2 linked regions of the Homo sapiens genome follow. The protein of the gene in region 1 interacts with the protein of each later gene in a pairwise test. Each region holds a gene or a part of one and is shown on either strand. Other genes may lie near its edges.

Region 1 (3,500 bases):
CTCTGGTTAAAGCTAGTAAAAGATTTCTGAGCAAATGAGACCATGCCTAGGTCAGTATGTCCTCCCTTTTTAGATGTGGACATAGTGAAGGGTAGGTTACCTCTGCTCCCAACCCTCTCTCCCCTAAAGACCCTGGATTATTTAATGAGAGCTGTGGAATCATAGCTTCAGATTTGGCCTTTGTATTAGCGGCCATATTCTACCCCTATTTGTACTGCCAACTGTAACTTGCCTGAAGTAAAGCTGGCAGAAATAGGAGCTTACAGTTGCAGTGGAATAATTGTTCCAGACCACACATGTGTTTGTGTATTCACCTGTTTGTGTTCCCCCATCCCGTATTCCACAAAGGCTTTGTGTTTATTCTTAAGCTAAAAAATGCCCTCTTCTCTTACCCATCCCTTTTCCTCTACACAGCTTGGGCTTAGGTTTTAACTTCTTAAAGCCCTTCCTGATGACCCTAATACACACAGATCTCTCAAGCTTCCATGTCTTTGGAGCACGTCATCTGTAGTGTACTTTGCTTGCCTAGCTTTCACAGTTGATCGCTTTGGCCTGTCAGTATAATGTTTACATATAGCAACCCTCACCGATTGATGCTATACCTGAGAATCAGAAAGTCAGCAAAGAAGACTTCTACTAGAAAAACATGTTGTTACAAACTTTGTGTTCTTCTAGCCTTCCTTATTTACTGGATATTTATTCAGGAACAGTATAGCATTATACTGTCCACTTTTTCTTAGCATTAAGCATGTTATAGCATTAAGACCACTTGTTTTTGTGTCAGACTTCCTGGATTCACATTCCACTGCCACCACTGACTAGCTGCTTGACATTATTCAAGTTAACCACTTTGATACTCAATTTCTGCATCTGTAAAATGGGGATAATACTATCTGCCTTATAGGTATCATCTTAGATAATGTGTGTACGGGACTTACCATAATTCCTGGCATATTCTAAGTCCTCAGTCTTAGTCATCCTCAGTTCAGCACATACGGTTTTGCTGTGTTGCACCTGTTCTGTGCAAAGTACCATGCCAGACACATTATTTATTTTTATTTTTGTAGAGATCGTGTCCCACTATGTTGCCCAGGCTAGTCTCAAACTCCTGGGCTCAAACGATCTTCCTGCCTCAGCCTCCCAAAGTGCTGGGATTATAGGTGTGAGCCACAGTGCCCTGCCTGACACATTTTAAATGGTGTTTTTTCATGCTTGGGGATCTGTTTTCCAAGCATGGCAGACTAGAAAGAGTAAATAAGGGAGAGGAATCATTCATATACCCAATGTTTACCCATGATATACTTTGTGCCAGGCCAAGTGATTGCTAGATGCACTGCAAAATATGTCTGAGACCTGGGACATTGTACGTGGTCTGTCAGAATTAGCCCCTCTCTTCATACATGTTCTGTTCCCTTACAGAGTTTATAGTAGTATGATACGTCTGTGTAACAGGCCAACAAAAAGGAGACAGAGAAAGCACACAAATTTAGCATAATTTATCCTACCTCCCGGCTGTTTGAAGCTATTAACATAGGTGTATATAGCCCTATATACCTATGTAAGCCCCAAGCATCAGTTTACTGTATCTTTGTGCTATGATTTATGTTTATTATGACTGTTAGCCATCAAATAAAGATTAAATTATGTTCAATATAGCTTGTTAGTGAAAGAAGAAAAAAAATATAGTTTTCTATCCAAAATGGTTTAAATATAATTTTTTTACTTAAAAGGATAAGCAATAGATTATCTAGAAAGCACAGTTATCCAGAATGTCTAGGCTTACAGAGGCTCTGGATTGCATGGATTATACTTTATATAATACTAACTCATTTTCTGATTGTTTAATGGATGCATGCCTTCGGTCTATACCTTGGGAGCTTGGGATAGGCATTCTATCAAACTTCTTAACTTACAGTATTTTTTAGTTCTGGGCACGTAGCGGGCACTCAGATTCTCATGTAACAAGACAGTTTGCTATGTTTAGAGTTATAGTGAAATACTGATTTCCAAGAAAGAAACTCCTGTATAAGAATATTGTAAGATTTGGTTAAAAGTAAATTCTATCAACTAAAAGGCCAAAAAGATCTGAGAAAAGGAAATGTTAAAACCAATCATGGCCAGGCACAGTGGCTCACCTCTGTAATACCAACACTTTGGGAGGCTGAGGCAGCTGGATCACTTGAGCCCAGGAGTTTGAAACCAGCCTGGGCAACATGCTGAAATCCCATCTCTACGAAAAATACAAACATTAGCCAGGCGTGATGGTGTGCACCTGTAGTCCCAGCTACTCGGGAGGCTGATGTGGGAGGATTGCTTGAGTCTGGGAGGTTGAGGCTGCAGTGAGCCAAGATTGTTCCACTGCATTTCAGCCTGGGTGACAGAGCTAGACCACGTCCTCACACCACCACCCCCCAAAAAAAGAAGAAAAAAGAAAACCAGCCACAATAGCTTCAAACTGTAAATTGAGTTATGAACTAAATACTGATGTATATGAATGGAAAAGTAAAGTGAAATGTACTTCTTAGGGTTCAGAAGCACAGAGAAACTAAACCGAAGATCACAGTTGAGGAGATTATGTTATGGTTTAGGAATATTTTATGCTTAATTTCTCAAGCATGAGAAGGGTGAATAAGAAAAGAGGAAGCCAAGGAGACTTGCTGGAGAATCTGAAAATTTATAGATAGTAGCAATGAATGTGGCTTTAAACTAATTTTTATGCTGCCATTTCATTGGGGGAATAAAAGAAAAAGAAAACTATTCCAAAACAGATATGAATTTCCCAAGATGTGAAAATGTTCTGAAATAAGGAATGAAGCATGAAAAATTTTGAAAAATGGACCTCATTTGGAGGATAATAACAGATTCTCCCAAATGTCAGAAAATATGGCAAGTAATTCATTGTTGTAAAGAAAGCTTCCTAATATTTATTTAAGGACTTTGGTTTTTTTTTTTTTTTAATTAAAAAAAAAAATTTAAGAGACAGGAGTCTTGCTAATGTTGTCCAGGCTGACCTTAAACTCCTGGGCTCAATTGATCCTCCTGCCTCATCCTCCTGAGCTATTGGGACTGCAGGCACATGCCACCATGCCAGGCTAGACTTCTTCCTCTTGTTAGTGTTATTATTTTTTAAACAGTGATTAGCATAACCATTCTATTGAAATGGTCCTTTATTCATTCCCAGAATGGATCTGAACCTTGGAGATTATAATGGCGTGACAGCCTTTTCTCATGCTGACCTTTTTACTTTTGCCCACTACTGTGCCAGATTTCTTTTGAAAGTGCCTATTTTGAGCAAAATGATTTTAACATCTTAAGGAAGAGGGCAACACTGACCATGTAAGGATTGTAGAATGGAAGGGCCTGGAAACAGATCTTGTGGATTTGAATTTGTCTGATCTAAGTTCCTGCTCTTCTAAGAGAATGCAAAAACAAGATAAAATGCAACTATCCACTAGCATAGCAGTTTTCTGGGTCTTCCACTAAACTATCTTAATTAATTA
Region 2 (5,100 bases), on another chromosome or scaffold:
ATGCGAAAATATAGTAGAAATTTCTACTGCCATTATTTCTCTCCTCCTCTTCTCTTCTCTTCTCTTCTCTTCTCTTCTCTTCTCTTCTCTTCTCTTTTCTTTCTGAGACAGGAGCTCACTCTGTTACCCAGGCTGAAGTACAGTGGTGCAATCATGGCTCATTTCAGCCTCGAGCTTCTGGGTTCAAGTGATCATCCCACCTCAGCCACCCGAGTAGCTCGGACTACAGGCATGTGCCACCATGCCTGGCTAATTTTTGTAGATACAGAGTTTCACTATGTTGCCCAGGCTGGTCCTGAACTCCAGGGCACAATCAATACACCCACCTCAGCCTCCCAAAGTGCTGGGATTACAGTTGTGAGCCATTGTGGCCAGCCTACTGCCATGATGTCTACTGCCATGATTTCATGGCAGGTGCAGCTGGTCCAGCATGGATGGGTTGCTCTTGCCTTCATGATAGAGTGATCTACCGATAAAAAGGTATGAGGAAGCTTTGGCTATCTCTCTCGGTATTTTTTTGAGACAGATTGAGCTCTAATCCAATGTGATTGCTGTACTTATAAAAAGGGGAAAATTGGGCACAGAGACACCCACATAGGAAGAACATCATATTAGGCCGGGTGTGGTGGCTCACGCCTGTAATCCCAGCACTTTGGGAGGCCAAGGCGGGCGGATCACAAGGTCAGGAGATCGAGACCACGGTGAAACCCTGTCTCTACGAAAAATACAAAAAATTAGCTGGGCGCGGTGGCGGGTGCCTGTAGTCCCAGCTACTCGGGAGGCTGAGGCAGGAGAATGATGCGAACCCGGGAGGCAGAGCTTGCAGTGAGCTGAGATTACGCCACTGCACTCCAGCCTGGGCGACAGAGTGAGACTCCCTCTCAAAAAAAAAATAAAATAAAAAAATAAAAAGGAAGAACATCATGTCAAGATAAAGGCAGAGATTAGGCAATGTTTTTGCAAGCCAAAGAATACCAGAGATTGCTAGCAAACCATCAGAAGCAAGGTGAGAGGCATGGAACAGATACTCTCACACAGCTCCAAGAAGAAACCAACCCTGCTCACACCTTGACTTTGGACTTCTAACCTCCAGAACTCTGAGACAATAATGTTTGTTGTTTAAGACATCCAGTTTGTGGGATTTCGTTATGGCAGCCCTAGCAAAACTAACATATACTACCCAGTGAAGATTTGCTCTCCATCTTCCACGGCTCCCCCACATCAAATGACTAGATCTTGTCTGGTTAATGTCCAAAATGTCTTGTAGGTTCAGGCTCTACTCTGTTTCCATTGCCTCTGTAGACATATTGGGTAATTGGGTAATCAGTAAGCACCGTGATAGGAGAAGATAGAAAGGGACTTAGTTGACCAAATGCAGCAAGGCTAGGTCAAAGCTGGTGTAAGAGGGAGAGGGTCTGGGATTCAAAAGCAATGTGGAAATGTTGAGGCTGGCAAGCAGAGAGTGAGGGGATGCCTAACTTACCACTTGGTTGGAGAATGCTGAGACGGCAGAGGCTGCACCAAATGTCCAAGGGGTAGGGCTGGCCCGAGGCCAAGATTCCCCTGGGCTCTGTCCCATGGCTGACTTTAGGGCTGAATTTTCACCTGGGGTGTGTGTTGGGGTCTGAGTGGAGATCTTGGGGAGATCTTTGCTACTGGGTTTCTTTAGGGTGTGGCCGCGGGGCACACATCCAGAGGCACCGACCTTGTGAAGCTCCCGAGGGTGTTCTTTGAACTACTGCAAACCCAACCGGCAGGTTTGCTGAAAAGTGGCCACGTTCCAGTCCAAAATGTGTGAGCAGAGCGCGAGCTTAGCACTCCCCAGCCCCAGTCCCAGCTCTGCCAGGAAAGGGGAGACTTCACCGTGGCACTGGGAATTGGATTCTAAACTTTAGGATCAAGCAATGGAAGGACCTGGAATAAGACACCTTCTTGACCCCCCTGAAGGGCTCTGAGCAGCTGGGCTTGCCTTTCTCTTTGCTCCCCCAGTCCTCCCCTTACTTCTCGGTCTCCCACTCCCCATCACTCCTTTCCCTGCCTCCTCCTGCCTGTCTCCATCTTCCTCCCTCTCTTTCTTCTCTCGCCCCATTAATCCCCGCTTGTCACTATCACCTCCTTCCTCCAGTCTTTCCCCCTTCGCTGCCCCTTCTTTCCTCTGACATTTCCTTCTCCTCTTACTGCCACTGTCTCCCACCTTTCTCCTCCCCCACATTTCTCCCTATCCCTACCTCCTCTTCCCCTTCATCTTTCTCCTTCCCCCTTATTTTTCTATCTCCTTCCTCAGTCCCACTCCTCTTTCCACCCTCCTTTTGCCCGTCACTTCTCCTTCTCCCTCACTGCCCCCTCCCTCTCTCTCCCCTCCCCAGGTCCTGCCCCACCCAGCTGTGTTTGCTTTTCTCCCGGATCCGGATGGAGGGGTTGCCCTGCCCGTGCCCAGCCCTGCCCCACTTCTGGCAGCTTAGGTCTCACTTAATGGCTGAGGGCTCCAGGACTCAGGCCCCTGGGAAAGGGCCCCCACTCAGCATCCAGTTCCTGCGAGCCCAGTATGAAGGCTTGAAGAGGCAGCAGAGGACCCAGGCCCACCTCCTGGTGCTTCCAAAAGGTAGGAATGGACAGGTGCTGGGGAAGGAGAGACTTACCATGGGAGACCTGAGTGGCAGAGCTGCAGGGAGGCAGAGCCAGGGCTTTGCCAGCCCTCCCTCCCAGTGGGGAAGAGCAGGGGAGGCGGGCTCAGGGCAGCTCTGCTCAGCTGTCCCACCTGCTAAGGGAGCCAGGGGCCTCAGCCAAGCACCTGGCTGCCAGCACTGTTCCTGGCCTCTGCTCTGATGTTCTAATCTTGCTAGACTGGTCAGCCTGGTGAGCCAGGCTTGGCCCCCCTGCTAGCCCAGGTATGGCGATAGGAGCTCTGCTTCCTGGCTGGGTCTAACTAAGGCACCTCCTACAAACCAGAGAAATTCACTCTGGAGGTAGAAGACATGGCGTTCCCAACAGCCTGGGAACTGTCTGGGCCAGAGGACGCCTAGGGCTCAGAGACCCATGAGGCATCCCAGGCTCATCCAGCCTCAAACATCAGGCAGGGAGGTGTGATTGGACACAGAAACCCCCTCATGGGGAGAAACCTCCTCCCTTTAGGAACTCAGATTTCATTCCAGGAGGGAGTTAGAGGCACAGGGCTCAGAAAGCAAGGGCATGTCAAATCCCAGCCCTTCCTCCTCTAACAGAGGAACAGGTTGAGGGAGAAGGGAAGATACCCTGAAAGGTCAAAGCTGGGCTCTGTGGGATTCTGTGGTTATTTGTAGAGTTCAGTAGACTCTTTGGGCTGCCCTTTGCCAGGCCAGACTGGGCAGGAATCAGGGGCCAGAGGGACCTCTCTGTCTAGGGCAGGAAGTGTGCTGCCTTTTGGGAACAAAAGTGGCACCTCTGAGCTGAAGGAGCCCATCTCCCATTACCTGGGCTGTTGCCAACCAATGGAATCCTCGTTCCTGGCAGGAGTGAACTGGCACAGCCAAACAGTCACCATCTCTGCAGGGCATAAACTGAAAGGTTCCTAAAGCTCTATCCCACCCTTGAGGGTATTTATTCATTCAGTTATTCAACAAACATTTATCAATTTAAATCCCTATCAAATGGAAACACAATGCTTAATACACCTGCAATTCAGACTCACAAATCTAATTGCTTAGTGGGGATGATCCAAAGACATCTCAAATTCAACATGCCCCCAGAGAATTCACTATACCCTGTGCTCGTCCTTTCTCCTGCTCTTGGTAACTCGGTACCCCCTTTCCCATCATTACTAGGTGCTAAATTATGGTTCATGCAAGGAGTGCCCAGGTGTGGCTTTCTCCGAGAAGACTTCTGACCTCCCAGCTAGGTCAGGGTCATTCAGGGCACTTTCAGCAGTTTGCAGTTCCACATTTTTTTTTTTTTGAGACAGATTCTCACTCTGTTGCCCAGGCTGGAGTGCAGTGGGGTGCAATCTCGGCTCACTGAAACCTCTGCCTCCCGGGTTCAGGCAATTCTCCCTGCCTCAGCCTCCTGAGTAGCTGGATTACAGGCACCTGCCACCATGCTCGGTTAATTTTTGTATTTTTTTTAGTAGAGATGGGGTTTCACCATGTTGGCCAGGCTGCTCTTGAACTCCTGACCTCAGGTGATCCACCCACCTCGACCTTCAAAAGTGCTGGGCGTGAACCACCATACTTGGCTGAGTTCCACATTCTTTATCTAACTGTGAGAGGCAGCATACTGTGTAATGGAGTGGTCATGTACTGGGTCTTGGAGCACAGCCTGAGTTTGAGTCCCAGCTCTGCCATTTACTTAATATGCAGCTTTAAACAAGTTACATAAATTTTCTGGGGCTCAGTTTCCTCACCTGTCAATTGGGAATAACTGTAGTACCCAAATCATAGGGTTATTGTAGGAATAAAATGAACTAATATGTATAAAGCTCATCAAGGCCTTATGCACTGACTGGCTGAGGACAAGATCACGTATGTCACATGTATCTAAGTAGGAAGGCCACTTGAAACACTAGCACTGAATGTGAAGGAGTAGGTAATTATCCAGGGAGAAATCAGAGTAAGGTGACAAAAATAAGGTGAAAATGGCACTAAGGAGGCAAAAGAGCAATTAATTGTCCCCTATACTTTAGCAACAGGATAGATGGTGGTATCTTTCCTTGAGAATACAGGAGAAAAAGGCTTTTTGTGGAGAAAAAGGCTTTTTGTAGAGAGAGATGAACTTGTTTTTGAATATACTGCATTGGAGATAGTTGCCTGTAGACCTTCCATCCAGCCTGGATCTCATTTGGGCTGGAGAGCTAGATTTGGGGTTATTCATCTATAGATGGTAGCTGAAGCCATGGGCATGGATAAAACTGTGGCAAATCCATGTGTAAATTGATAAGAAACTGGGATGAAAATTAGAGTTCTGGAATACTCAAATATTTAAGGAACAAGAGGAGGAAATGAAGCCAGGGAAGATGGAGAGAGCAGTCAAAATTTGAGGACAGGCATATCATTCAGCCATAAAAAGGAAAGAAATTCTGCCATACACTACAACATGGATAAAACTTGAGGACATTATGCTGAGTGAAGT

What was found.
Region 2: the proteins of ANKS1A (region 1) and C9orf152 interact in a two-hybrid assay, tested with the Homo sapiens proteins (one large-scale study listed by BioGRID).

The regions. Positions count from the first base shown.
Region 1 is NC_000006.12:34,892,255-34,895,754, forward strand, and holds part of ANKS1A (ankyrin repeat and SAM domain-containing protein 1A), read left to right. Parts: intron 1-3,500. UniProt on the Homo sapiens protein: Regulator of different signaling pathways. Regulates EPHA8 receptor tyrosine kinase signaling to control cell migration and neurite retraction.
Region 2 is NC_000009.12:110,204,889-110,209,988, reverse strand, and holds the start of C9orf152 (uncharacterized protein C9orf152), read left to right. Parts: upstream 1-1,829; 5' UTR 1,830-2,409; coding exon 2,410-2,602; intron 2,603-5,100.